Linked DNA regions of Homo sapiens. The protein of the gene in region 1 purifies or fractionates together with the protein of each later gene. This does not show direct contact. Each region holds a gene or a part of one and is shown in the gene's direction. Other genes may lie near its edges.

Region 1 (2,893 bases):
CCAATCATGGAAGCAAGGAAGCCTTGTGGTGTGAGTGGAAGTGATCTGGCTCCCAGGCTCAGGTGGCCTGGAGTGTTACTGTAGGAGAGGCTATGTGGATATACAAAACCTTAGCCACCTTGGACAGAGTTCAGCATGGACTGGGACAGCCTGCCAATCAGTCCTGAGCAGTCTTGGTGATGCTCTGAGGTGTTGAAAGCCTGGGCTGTGGAGAAGGATGTGTCAGAGCATGAGGGGGCACTGGGATGTGTGTGTGTGTGTGTGTGTGTGTGTGTGTGTGTGTGTGTGTATGGGGGGTGTTGGACCTTTGTTGCCACTGGAGGATGTGACTGGAGAAAGTGAAAGCCCCAGTAAAGAGGAGAATCATACATGGATTAAGTTGAGCTGGGCCCTTGGAAGGGGACAAGCTCACCAAGTGACCAAGTGTAGAATGTGAGAATTAGAGGGAGAAGCAGAAATAAGAGGAGATGTTGATTGTCAAAGGAGGTCCACTAGGGATATCTCTTCTAAAGACTCTGAATGGTATGTGGAGAGGTTGAGGACACTGTTCTGCAAACCAAGGATAGAAAAGAAGGCCAGGAGCAGTGGCTCATGCCTATAATCACAGCACTTCGGGAGGCTGAAGTGGGTGGCTTGCTTGAGCTCAGGAGCTTTAGACCAGCCTGGGCAACATGGTGAAACCCTATCTCTACAAAAAATATAAAAATTAGCAGAGCATGGTGGCACATGCCTGTAGTCCTAGTTACTCAGGAGGCTGAGGTGGGAGGATCATTTGAGCTGGGGGAAGTCAAGGCTGCAGTGAGCCAAGATCACACCACTGCACTCCAGCCTGGGTGACAAAGTGAGCCCCTGTCTGAAAAAAAAAAAAAAAAAAAAAAAAAAAAAAAAAAAGGAGAAGGAAGTGGCATGAAGGAAAGCTGTAGGCACAAGATAATTTAAAACACTCATCTAACATGGAGACAGTAACACTATCCTGGCTGTTCCACATCATCCAATGAGGGACTTATTAACTTCCTAATAGAGCTCCTCCTCTAATCTGTTTCCACTGGACAGCCCTTTCCACACTTTAGTTCTACATACTACAGACTTTGTCTGATCCTGCAGACAATGGGGAATCATCAAGCATGTTCATCAACTAAAAGGAAAAACACTTTGGGACTGCTAGGGTCCTCAAAGGCCCTAACAGTCCTTCACAAATTGGTACTAATGTCTATCTACAGCTTTATTTTTTTGCTATTCTCCCCTTTATTCCAGCCACACACAAAGCATTTGTACTTGCTCTCTGCCTTCTTGGAATGCTCTTCCCTTCTACACATAACTAACTCCTACTCACCTTTCAATTTCCAACTCAGAAGCATCTCAGCTATGCAAGGGCTTTCATGTAATTCACCCACTGAGTGAAGAAGTATTTTGTATCATTTCAGATCACACCACCCAAATTGCTGCCTCTTGATGATGACCTCTTGGCTAACATACACAACATGACTGAATTCATTTTTCTGGTACTTTCTCCCAACCAGGAGGTGCAGAGGGTTTGCTTTGTGATATTTCTGTTCTTGTACACAGCAATTGTGCTGGGGAATTTCCTCATTGTGCTCACTGTCATGACCAGCAGAAGCCTTGGTTCCCCCATGTACTTCTTCCTCAGCTACCTCTCCTTCATGGAGATCTGCTACTCCTCCGCTACAGCCCCCAAACTCATCTCAGATCTGCTGGCTGAAAGGAAAGTCATATCTTGGTGGGGCTGCATGGCACAGCTTTTCTTCTTGCACTTCTTTGGTGGCACTGAGATTTTCCTGCTCACTGTGATGGCCTATGACCACTATGTGGCCATCTGCAAGCCCCTCAGCTACACCACCATCATGAACTGGCAGGTGTGTACTGTCCTTGTAGGAATAGCATGGGTGGGAGGCTTCATGCATTCCTTTGCACAAATCCTTCTCATCTTCCACCTGCTCTTCTGTGGCCCCAATGTGATCAATCACTATTTCTGTGACCTAGTTCCCCTTCTCAAACTTGCCTGCTCTGACACCTTCCTCATTGGTCTGCTGATTGTTGCCAATGGAGGCACCCTGTCTGTGATCAGTTTTGGGGTCCTCTTAGCATCCTATATGGTCATCTTGCTCCATCTGAGAACCTGGAGCTCTGAAGGGTGGTGCAAAGCCCTCTCCACCTGTGGGTCCCATTTCGCTGTGGTTATCTTGTTCTTTGGGCCCTGCGTCTTCAACTCTCTGAGGCCTTCTACCACTCTGCCCATAGACAAGATGGTGGCTGTGTTCTACACAGTGATAACCGCGATCCTGAACCCTGTCATCTACTCTCTGAGAAATGCTGAAATGAGGAAGGCCATGAAGAGGCTGTGGATTAGGACATTGAGACTAAATGAGAAATAGAGGCTGAGTCTTTGTATTGATACTTGGGTTTAGAATGACTGTTGAGTCCAAACTGAAGGAGCAGAATAGGTTGAAGGAAAGTTCACAGGACCTGTTAGTTGCAGATTATTCTACCTGGCCTCTCTCTTTAAAAAGTTCATTTTCATAACTTGAATAGTATTTCTTTTTGTGGAGGTACTAATTTTTTACCACCATAAATAACACTGTAGTTAATATTCTTGAATAGACATTTTTAACCATGCTTCTGACTTTCTTTTAGGCTTATTTCCTAGAGTGAATTTAGTGTTAGAGTATAAAGACTTTTGGTGCACAGTGTTACACTGAGTCACCTATCTTGTGAAAGTGCTCTTGACAGAATAGAATCCTGTCATTAAACACTTTTTTTTGGATAAGAAATGATTTTACATTGTTTCAAAGTATCTTTCCTTAGGACACCAAGGGGTATTAATTACAGAGAGAAAAATGTAACTTTATAGCCCTTCCCCTCTAAACCATTGCCC
Region 2 (4,207 bases), on another chromosome or scaffold:
TTGACTGGCGCTCAGCGACGGCTGCACGGCACAAAGGGGACACAGGACCCCACCACCCCACAGCTTGGCACAGAAAGGGAGGAGCCACGCTGACTGTGGAACCCCAGGGGGCTACTTAGAGCCATCCCGTGGGAGGTTGTGGGGGTTCATGCCCCAGACAGAGAATGGGGACCCAGCAGGGACAGAGCTGGGGTGGTCCATGCGTTGTTCGGGGACTCCGGGGAACACAGGGCAGGGCATCTGCAAAGGGACGATTGGAGAGAGTGTGACGATGAGATCACTGGAGAAGCGTGAGGAGGGGCCAGCCAGCCGGCACAGCCCAGTGGGCACCTGGGGATCGGTCACAGAGGGAAGCCGCCACCAGCCTGGGCCTGTGCACTGGGAATTTCAATGAGTTCTGGGTCCCCGCCCCAGCCTCTGTGTCTGTCCCTTCGCCCCCATGCCAGGGACTTACTTCTCCTAACTGAGTACTGTCATGAGCCCATTCTGCAGGGGAGGGGACTGAAGCCCAGAGAGGTCAGGGGACTTGCCCAAGGTCACACAGCAGAGCGGGGTCTGGGATTTGAACCTGTATTTAGCTGACCCTGAAGTCCTTGCTTTTATATATGCTTTAAAAACAAAACAAAACAAAAAACCCTTTCCATTTCCATAATGAAAGCCTCCAAACATACAAAGTAACAGAACGGCAGAGTAAGGCCTGGGCCGCTTCCTCTGCCCGCCTCCCATCCCCGTTCCTTACTGTCGTGATTTTTATGTTTCTTTTCTGAAGGTAAAGTGTCTATACATTGAGACATAGAAATCATACCATTAGTGGAATGTATTGGACTTGAGCTAGTCAATCTGACATGTGCATTTATATTTTCTTTCTGTGGTATCTTAATTATCTTACTTTACTAACAGTGAGCAGATAATGCTTTTATAATAAGGGAAAAAACAATGCAATTATGATAAAAACGTGAAAGACGCTCCTTTGAGCTGGTTCCTTGCCCCACCCTGGGGAGCCCGAGTTTACTCTGTGTGTCTGCACCCCCCACCTGAGCTTTTCCATGTCCCGCCCACCTGAGACTAGACCCCAGAAAGGCCAGTGGCAGGCTCGGGGCAGGCAGCTTCCCTGAAGGGAGGGAGGAGCCCAGTGGGCAGGACCCACACATGTGGCCGCACGCAGGCCTGAGCCCCCTAAATCTCTCCCTGCTACCTCCTGGGGAGCCCCAGCCACTAGCCCCATTCCACAAGAGCCTCCATCTTCAAAGGGAGAGTGTGGGCCTCTGTGGGGTGCCCTCTTCTCTCAGCAGCTCCTGAGCCAACGCGAGGCTGGGGAGGCCGGCCTCAGGGAGGCATTGCCCGGGCGACCGGCTCCTCCTAGGGCCTGCCGTGGGCGGCCCCATCGCCTAGCAACCGGGTGGCAGCGTCCCTTGAGCCCAGGCCACACAGCTGCACCCAGCCCTGCCCGGCTCCTCCCAGGCCTGCAGGACCCCTGGGGCCCTGTCCTTATTCCCCAGCACCGGGACAGCCAAAGCTCTGGTCACAATGAACATCGTCTTCTCCAGGTGAGTGGGCCAGCGCCAGCCTGGCTGTGAGGGAGGTGGAAGTCGGGTTTTGAGGCCCGGGGCACCAACAAAGATGAGGGCAGCAGGGCCTGCTGCTTGGGGTGGGGGTTGGGGGTGAGGGGAGCTCTCCCTCCCACGGTGCCTCCACCTCCATCCAGCTCAGGGAAGACAGGGCTTGGGACTACAGAAGCTTCCAGAATCTGGCCTCCGTCTGCTTCTCCAGCATCGCTGCCTGTGTATCTGGAGGAGTCAAATTCATCCCCTTTCCTTTCTCGCCTCCACCTGGAAAACCCCCATCACACCTCAACCCCAACCAGGCCTCCCCCTTCTGTGGGGACCCAGTCCACACTGCCCCGGCCCATGCCATCCCTGCTCTCACAACCTGCCTGCCCTGCCCCGTTCATTTCCACGCCTGGTTCCTCTGAGGTTCGAATTCCAGGCAACCTCTCAAGCAACCAATGTGTTTTTATCTTTTATTTTTTTGAGATGGACTCTCACTCTGTAGCCCAAGCTGGAGTGCAGTGGTGCCATCTCGATCTCGGCTCACTGCAACCTCCATCGCCTGGGCTCAAGCGATTCTCATGCCTCAGCCTCCCAAGTAGCTGGGACTACAGGCGTGCTATTACGCCCGGTTAATTTTTTGTATTTTAGTAGAGACGGGGTTTCACCATGTTGCCCAGGGTGGTCTTGAACTCCTGAGCTCAGGCAATCTGCACACCTCGGCCCCCCAAAGAGCTGGGATGACAGGCGTGAGCCACTGTGCCCAGCCTGGATGTGTTTTTAAAACGCAGCTTCTCAGGCCCCCTCCCAGGGATTCTGGTGCACATGCCTGGGGTCGGGGGCCTAGGAGCCCCAGTGTCTGACTTCTGACCCCTGTGCTGCTGAATCAGGGGCTGTGAGGACCCTACCTGCGGGAACAGAGGCTGTGTCTGGCTGTGTGACCGGTAGCAAGATGCTTCACCTCTCTGGGCCTCAGTTCACTGCATTTTCACATGGTGATACCAGCAGCACCTTGCTTATAGGGCGGTGCATGTGGAGTGTTTTGCAGTGAGGGTGGCAAGAGAGTTAGGGTCTGTCGGGACAGAGGGCTGCTCCTCAGGGCGTTTCTCGAGTCAGGGATTTGATGAGAGGGTTGCACGGGGGACTTTGGTCACAGGGAGAGAGGCAGGGACAGTTACACGCTGGGGATGAGGGAAAGGAGAGGGCGTGAGGAGGCCCAGGAGAGGCCAGGCCTCCCTGGCTGTCGTAGAAGCCTGAATGCGGTGGATCAGTCATCGCGCACCTGCTGCAGGGGGGCGCCGGATTGGGAGCCCTTAAAGGTGAGTTGGGGCCGAACGTGGTGGCTCATGCCTGTCATCCCAGCACTTTGGGAGGCCAAGGCAGGCAGATCACCTGAGGTCAGGAGTTCAAGACCAGCCTGGCCAACATGGTGAAACCCTGTCTCTACTAAAAATACAAAAATTAGCCAGGCATGGTGGCAGGCGCCTGTAATCCCACCTACTCAGGAGGCTGAGGCAGGAGAATTACTTGAAACCAGGAGGCAGAGGTTGCAGTAAGCCAAGATCATACCACTGCACTCCAGCCTGGGTGACAGAGCAAGACTCTGTCTCCAAAAAAAAAAAAAAAAAGGCCAGGTCTGCAGCCAAGCCCGCATTTATATTCCTGCCCACTACTGACCAGCCCAGGCAGATCCCCCTCATCAGCCTCAATGGCCGTGATGCTGCCACCTTGAGTGACAGCCTGTGGCATGTGCGTGCCACACCAGAGGCCGGCTGGTGGCAGCTCCTGTTTTCATAGCTATTGTCTGCTCTTGGCATGACCGGGGCCCTGCATCTCTGCCCAGAATGGCTGCTCAGGTCCCCGCCTCCACAGGGACAGCCAGGTGAGGGTGATGGAGAATACCGTGGCCAACACCGAGAAGTACTTTGGGCAGTTCTGCTCGCTGCTGGCCGCCTACACGCGCAAGACGGCCCGGCTGCGGGACAAGGCGGACCAGCTGGTCAAGCAGCTCATCGACTTTGCCAACTCCGAGAACCCCGAGCTGCGGGCCACCATGAGGGGCTTCGCTGAGGACCTGGCCAAAGTGCAGGATTACCGGCAGGCCCAGGTGAGTGCTGCCGGCCCGGGTCTGGGATGCTGAGGGGTACCCAGGCTCCAATGCCAAGGTCAGGCCTGAGGGCTGCAGGAGCCCTGCTGTGGCCACAGCCAATGGGTGTGTCTCCAGAGACATCCACCGACAATGGACATTTACACCCTTTCCAGGGTCACACCTCCACCTGCAGGATTGAGAGCCTAGGAGGCTTTGCTGAGTCGGATGAAGGGTCAACAAAGCAAGGAAACCCAGGAAGCCAGCCCTGGGGGCTCCATGAACCCCCGAAGGAGACACATCCAAGGCCTATGAGGGCCTCGGGAAGGAACAGAAATCCTGGTGGGGAGTCAGGGGCAAGGAGGCTGCAGGGTGTTCAGGAAATAATTAAAAATAGAAATTCCTGCCAGCCCAGAAAACTCCTCACCATGAATTGTAGAAAAGAATAAAAAAGGGCCAGGTGCTCACACCTGTAATCTCAGCACTCTGGGAGGCCTAGGTGGACAGACTGTCTGAGCCCAGGAGTTTAAGATCAGCCTAGGAAACATAGCAAGACTCCATCTCTAAAATAAAT
Region 3 (4,032 bases), about 21 Mb from region 1:
TCTACACCCTTTGCAGTTTTCGCCATCACTTGAATTAAACTTTCACCTCCTCTTGATTAAACAGTGATATCTATTGACTCCTTAAAGATGAAATAGCTCATTCCCCACCCAAAATTTGAGACTTTCATTGTATTTGTGAGTTTTTTTTTTTTTTTCTGAGAGGGAGCCTTTCTCTGTTGGTCAGGCTGGAGTACAGTGACACAATCTCAGCTCACTGCAACCCCCATCTCCCAGGTTCAAGCCTCAGCCTTCTATGTAGCTGGGACTACAGGCGTGCGCCACTACGCCCAGCTAGTTTTTGTATTTTTTAGTAGAGACGGAGTTTCACTATATGTTGGCCAGGCTGGTCTCGAACTCCTGACCTCAGGTGATCCACCCGCCTCGGCCTCCCAAAGTGCTGGGATTACAGACGTGAGCCACCACGCCCAGCCGTATTTGTTACTTCTATTTCGGGACCAACTCCATCAGTTGCACCTGTAAGCTGCGTCACCAAGGACCGGGAGTGGGTGCAAGGCTGGGAACGTGCGGTGCAAGCCCCTGCCCTCTGTCCACCCGCAGCGTCCCAGGCCGGGATCTGTCTTGAGAGCTCGAGTGTAGAAAAATGTTTTATTTTATTTTATTTATTTTTTTGAGACGGAGTCTAGCTCTGTGGCACAGGCTGGAGTGCAGTGGCGGGATCTCGGCTCACTGCAACCTCCACCTCCCGGGCTCAAGCGATTCTCCTGCCTCAGCCTTCCAAGTAGCTGGGATTACAGGCGCGTGCCACCACGGCCAGCTAATTTTTGTATTTTTAGTAGAGACGGGGTTTCACCATGTTGCCCAGGCTGGTTTTGAACTCCTGACCTCAAGTAATCCGCCTGCCTCGGCCTCCCAAAGTGCTGGGACTACAGGCGTGAGCAACCACGCCTGGCCAGAAAAATATAACTGAAGCCCAAGGTCAGAAGCCAAGCTAGGCAGTCCCACTTAGCGCTGCCCGAGTTGATGGGGACCTCAGTTTCCCCACCTGAGCCTGGATCGGCTGAACCTGGGAGTGCCTCCCCTGACCCGCTCTGGCAACAGCGGCAGTCCAGGCCCCGCCCCTCGCGACTCTGTCTCCTCCCGCCCCAGACCACGCCCACCACACCTCCCTGGCCCCGCCTTTACCTCCCCGCCCCGACCTCGACTCCGCCCCACGCCCAGGCCCCGCCCACTGCCCGGGCGCCTCTTCCCCTCCCCCCAGGTTCCTGTCCCTCACCCTTCCCCCTTCTCCAACCGCCAACGGCCGCCTGCGCCTGAGGCCCGGCCCACGCCCCATCCCGCTCGCTCCACGCTGCGGCAGCCCCGGCGGCCCCAGGTGCGTCCCTCCGAGGAGGAATGACGGGGCGGTCCCCGGGCTGGGCCTCGGCTCTGCAGGCGGGGATGGGGGCTGCCGGGCCGGGTCGGGCCCCTGCGGGTGGGCGGAGGGCGGCGGGCCGTGGGCGAGGCCGCCCCTCACCTGGTCGCACCTCACCTGGCCCCCCCTCCCCTGGCTGCTCCTCACCTGACCCCCTCCTCGGCCGCCCCTCACCTGGCCCCCTCCCCTGGGCGCCCCTCACCTGACCCCCACCCCGGCCGGCCCCTCTCCTGGCCGCCCCTTACCTGGTCGCCCCTCCCCTGACTCCCTCCCCTGGTCGCTCCTCACCTGGCCGCCCCTCACCTGGCCCCCTCCCCTGGCCGCCCCTCCCCTGGTCGCCCCTCCCGTGACCCCCTCCCCGGCCGCCCCTCCCCTGGTCGCCGCTCACCTGACCGCCTCCCCTGGTCGCTCCTCACCTGGCCGCCCCTCACCTGGCCGCCCCTCACCTAATCGCCCCTCATCTGGTCGCCCCTCCCCTGACCCCCTCACCTGGTCGCCCTTCCCCGGGCCCCTCACCTGGCCCTCCCTCACCAGGCCGCCCCCTCCCCTAGCCGCCCCTCACCTGGTCCCCTCCCCTGGCCGCCCCTCCCTTGGCTGCCCCTCCCTTGGCTGTCCCCTTTCCTGGCCGCCCCTCCCCTCGTCCTCTCCTCTGGCTGCCTCTCACCTGGCCGCGTGTTGCAGGTGCGCGGCCCCCGCCATCCCGCCCCGCCGCCCTGCGCCATGGAGGAGGGCCCTCTGCCGGGCGGGCTGCCCAGCCCCGAGGATGCGATGGTGACGGAGCTCTTAAGCCCCGAGGGTCCGTTCGCTTCGGAGAACATCGGCCTGAAGGCCCCCGTGAAGTACGAGGAGGACGAGTTCCACGTCTTCAAAGAAGCGTACCTGGGCCCGGCGGACCCCAAGGAACCCGTCCTGCACGCGTTCAACCCCGCGCTGGGCGCCGACTGCAAGGGCCAGGTCAAGGCGAAGCTCGCGGGGGGCGACAGCGACGGCGGGGAGCTCCTCGGGGAGTACCCCGGGATCCCAGAGCTCAGCGCGCTGGAGGACGTCGCGCTCCTGCAGGCCCCGCAGCCGCCCGCCTGCAACGTGCACTTCCTGTCCTCGCTGCTACCCGCGCACCGCAGCCCGGCGGTGTTGCCCCTGGGCGCCTGGGTCCTGGAAGGAGCCTCCCACCCGGGCGTCCGCATGATCCCAGTAAGAACCGCCTGGGGAATGGGCACAGCTCCCCCTCCATCCCTTCCCCAACCCATCTGAGGCTGCTAGTGTACCCCAGGATTTCCCTCTACAAGCATTTTCCCTGGTGACACCACACACAGCCCACCGGAGTCACTGATTCTCGGTAGAGCGTATACTCTTTGTCGTCTTCCTAATCCAACATGCATCGGCCCAGCCAAGCCCTTTCCCCTGGAGGGAATTCTGCCCTGCACCAGTCGTCCAAAGCTGACCTAACCATGCAGACGGCGGACAACAAAAAAAGGGGGAAAGCTAGGACGTAGGTTCCCTTGGGCCCTGTTGCTATCCTTGGCTTAAGGAGAGAGGCCCGCTGTCTGCTGGTAACTATTGTCTGTGAAAACAAACGCAATGTGGTGGAGGGTTGGCGTGTTTGCATCTTGCATTTTTTTTTTCCTTTAACTTTACCAGGCTTGGAATCCACAGCAAGGACTCAGAGTTAATACTTGGATTTTCCGGGCCTTGAAGTCAAGATGTGAGATCTTCCCTTTGCTAATGAGTAATAGCTCTTCAAGCATATGCAATGTAAATCAGAGCCTAAAGAAATGCTTGCCAGCTCTCAGCCGACTGCCCTCTCTAGCTGTAGATGACCGCTGATAATTTTCCGCTTTGTTCTTGCCAAAACTAATGAGTTTTCAAAGGAAACAAAGGGTCCCAGGAAAATGTGTTCTCGACCCCTCAAAAAGGACCCAGCTCAGAAAACGAGACCACTCATCCATGAGGTCATTTTAGTAAGTTGTAGATGAAGCGTTTGTGGGACACAATGCTTGAGTCAGTATTGAGATGGCTGGAGCCTGACCCTGTATCATAAGCCAGAGCAGCAGGAGCTTGGATTTCTGCTCTTCCGGTTTTCTGTTATGGTAATTGCCAGTCCTTAGTGTACAGGAAAAGGATGGGCAGAGGCTGGGGCCTCCACTGACCTCTGTTTGTCCTCAGAGGAGCCATAGAGCTCACCAGTTCCCCCAGCCGTTTCCCAGGACAGAGGTCTTTCTCACAGCCTTTCTCAGAGGGCTTGAAATGTTAAGAACTGCATTTTGCTGCCCAGCCGGATTGGTGTCCAGCGCCTCCTGCCCGTAGGTCCTAGCTCGGCTCATTTCCTCACAGAGTGGAGTCAGAAAGCATTAATCAGAACAGGGAAGATAATACAAAAATTAACCGGGTGTGGTGGCGCACACCTGTAATCCCAGCTACTCGGGAGGCTGAGGCAGGAGAATTGCTTGAACCTGGGAGGCGAAGGCTGCAGTGAGCCGAGATTGCACCACTGCACTCCAGCCTGAGCGACAGAGTGAGACCCTGTCTTAAAAAACAAACAAAACACACACAAGAGAATTCTCTGATGTTAAAGATAGTAAAATTCTCTTTAATCCAATTTTAAGAGATTGCTGGTCTGACAAACTAAAGGAGAGACTTTGCTTTTTAAATTTTTATTGACT

Evidence for each region.
Region 2: the proteins of OR4X2 (region 1) and CIBAR2 purify together in Homo sapiens (affinity purification with mass spectrometry; one large-scale study listed by BioGRID and IntAct). This does not show direct contact.
Region 3: the proteins of OR4X2 (region 1) and TESMIN purify together in Homo sapiens (affinity purification with mass spectrometry; one large-scale study listed by BioGRID and IntAct). This does not show direct contact.

Annotation. Positions count from the first base shown.
Region 1 is NC_000011.10:48,243,623-48,246,515, forward strand, and holds OR4X2 (olfactory receptor 4X2), read left to right. Parts: upstream 1-1,481; coding exon 1,482-2,393; downstream 2,394-2,893. UniProt on the Homo sapiens protein: Odorant receptor.
Region 2 is NC_000016.10:85,109,673-85,113,879, reverse strand, and holds the start of CIBAR2 (CBY1-interacting BAR domain-containing protein 2), read left to right. Parts: upstream 1-1,407; 5' UTR 1,408-1,527; coding exon 1,528-1,547; intron 1,548-3,419; coding exon 3,420-3,654; intron 3,655-4,207. UniProt on the Homo sapiens protein: May play a role in ciliogenesis. In cooperation with CBY1 may facilitate ciliogenesis likely by the recruitment and fusion of endosomal vesicles at distal appendages during early stages of ciliogenesis.
Region 3 is NC_000011.10:68,748,721-68,752,752, reverse strand, and holds the start of TESMIN (tesmin), read left to right. Parts: upstream 1-1,232; 5' UTR 1,233-1,333; intron 1,334-2,053; 5' UTR 2,054-2,092; coding exon 2,093-2,563; intron 2,564-4,032.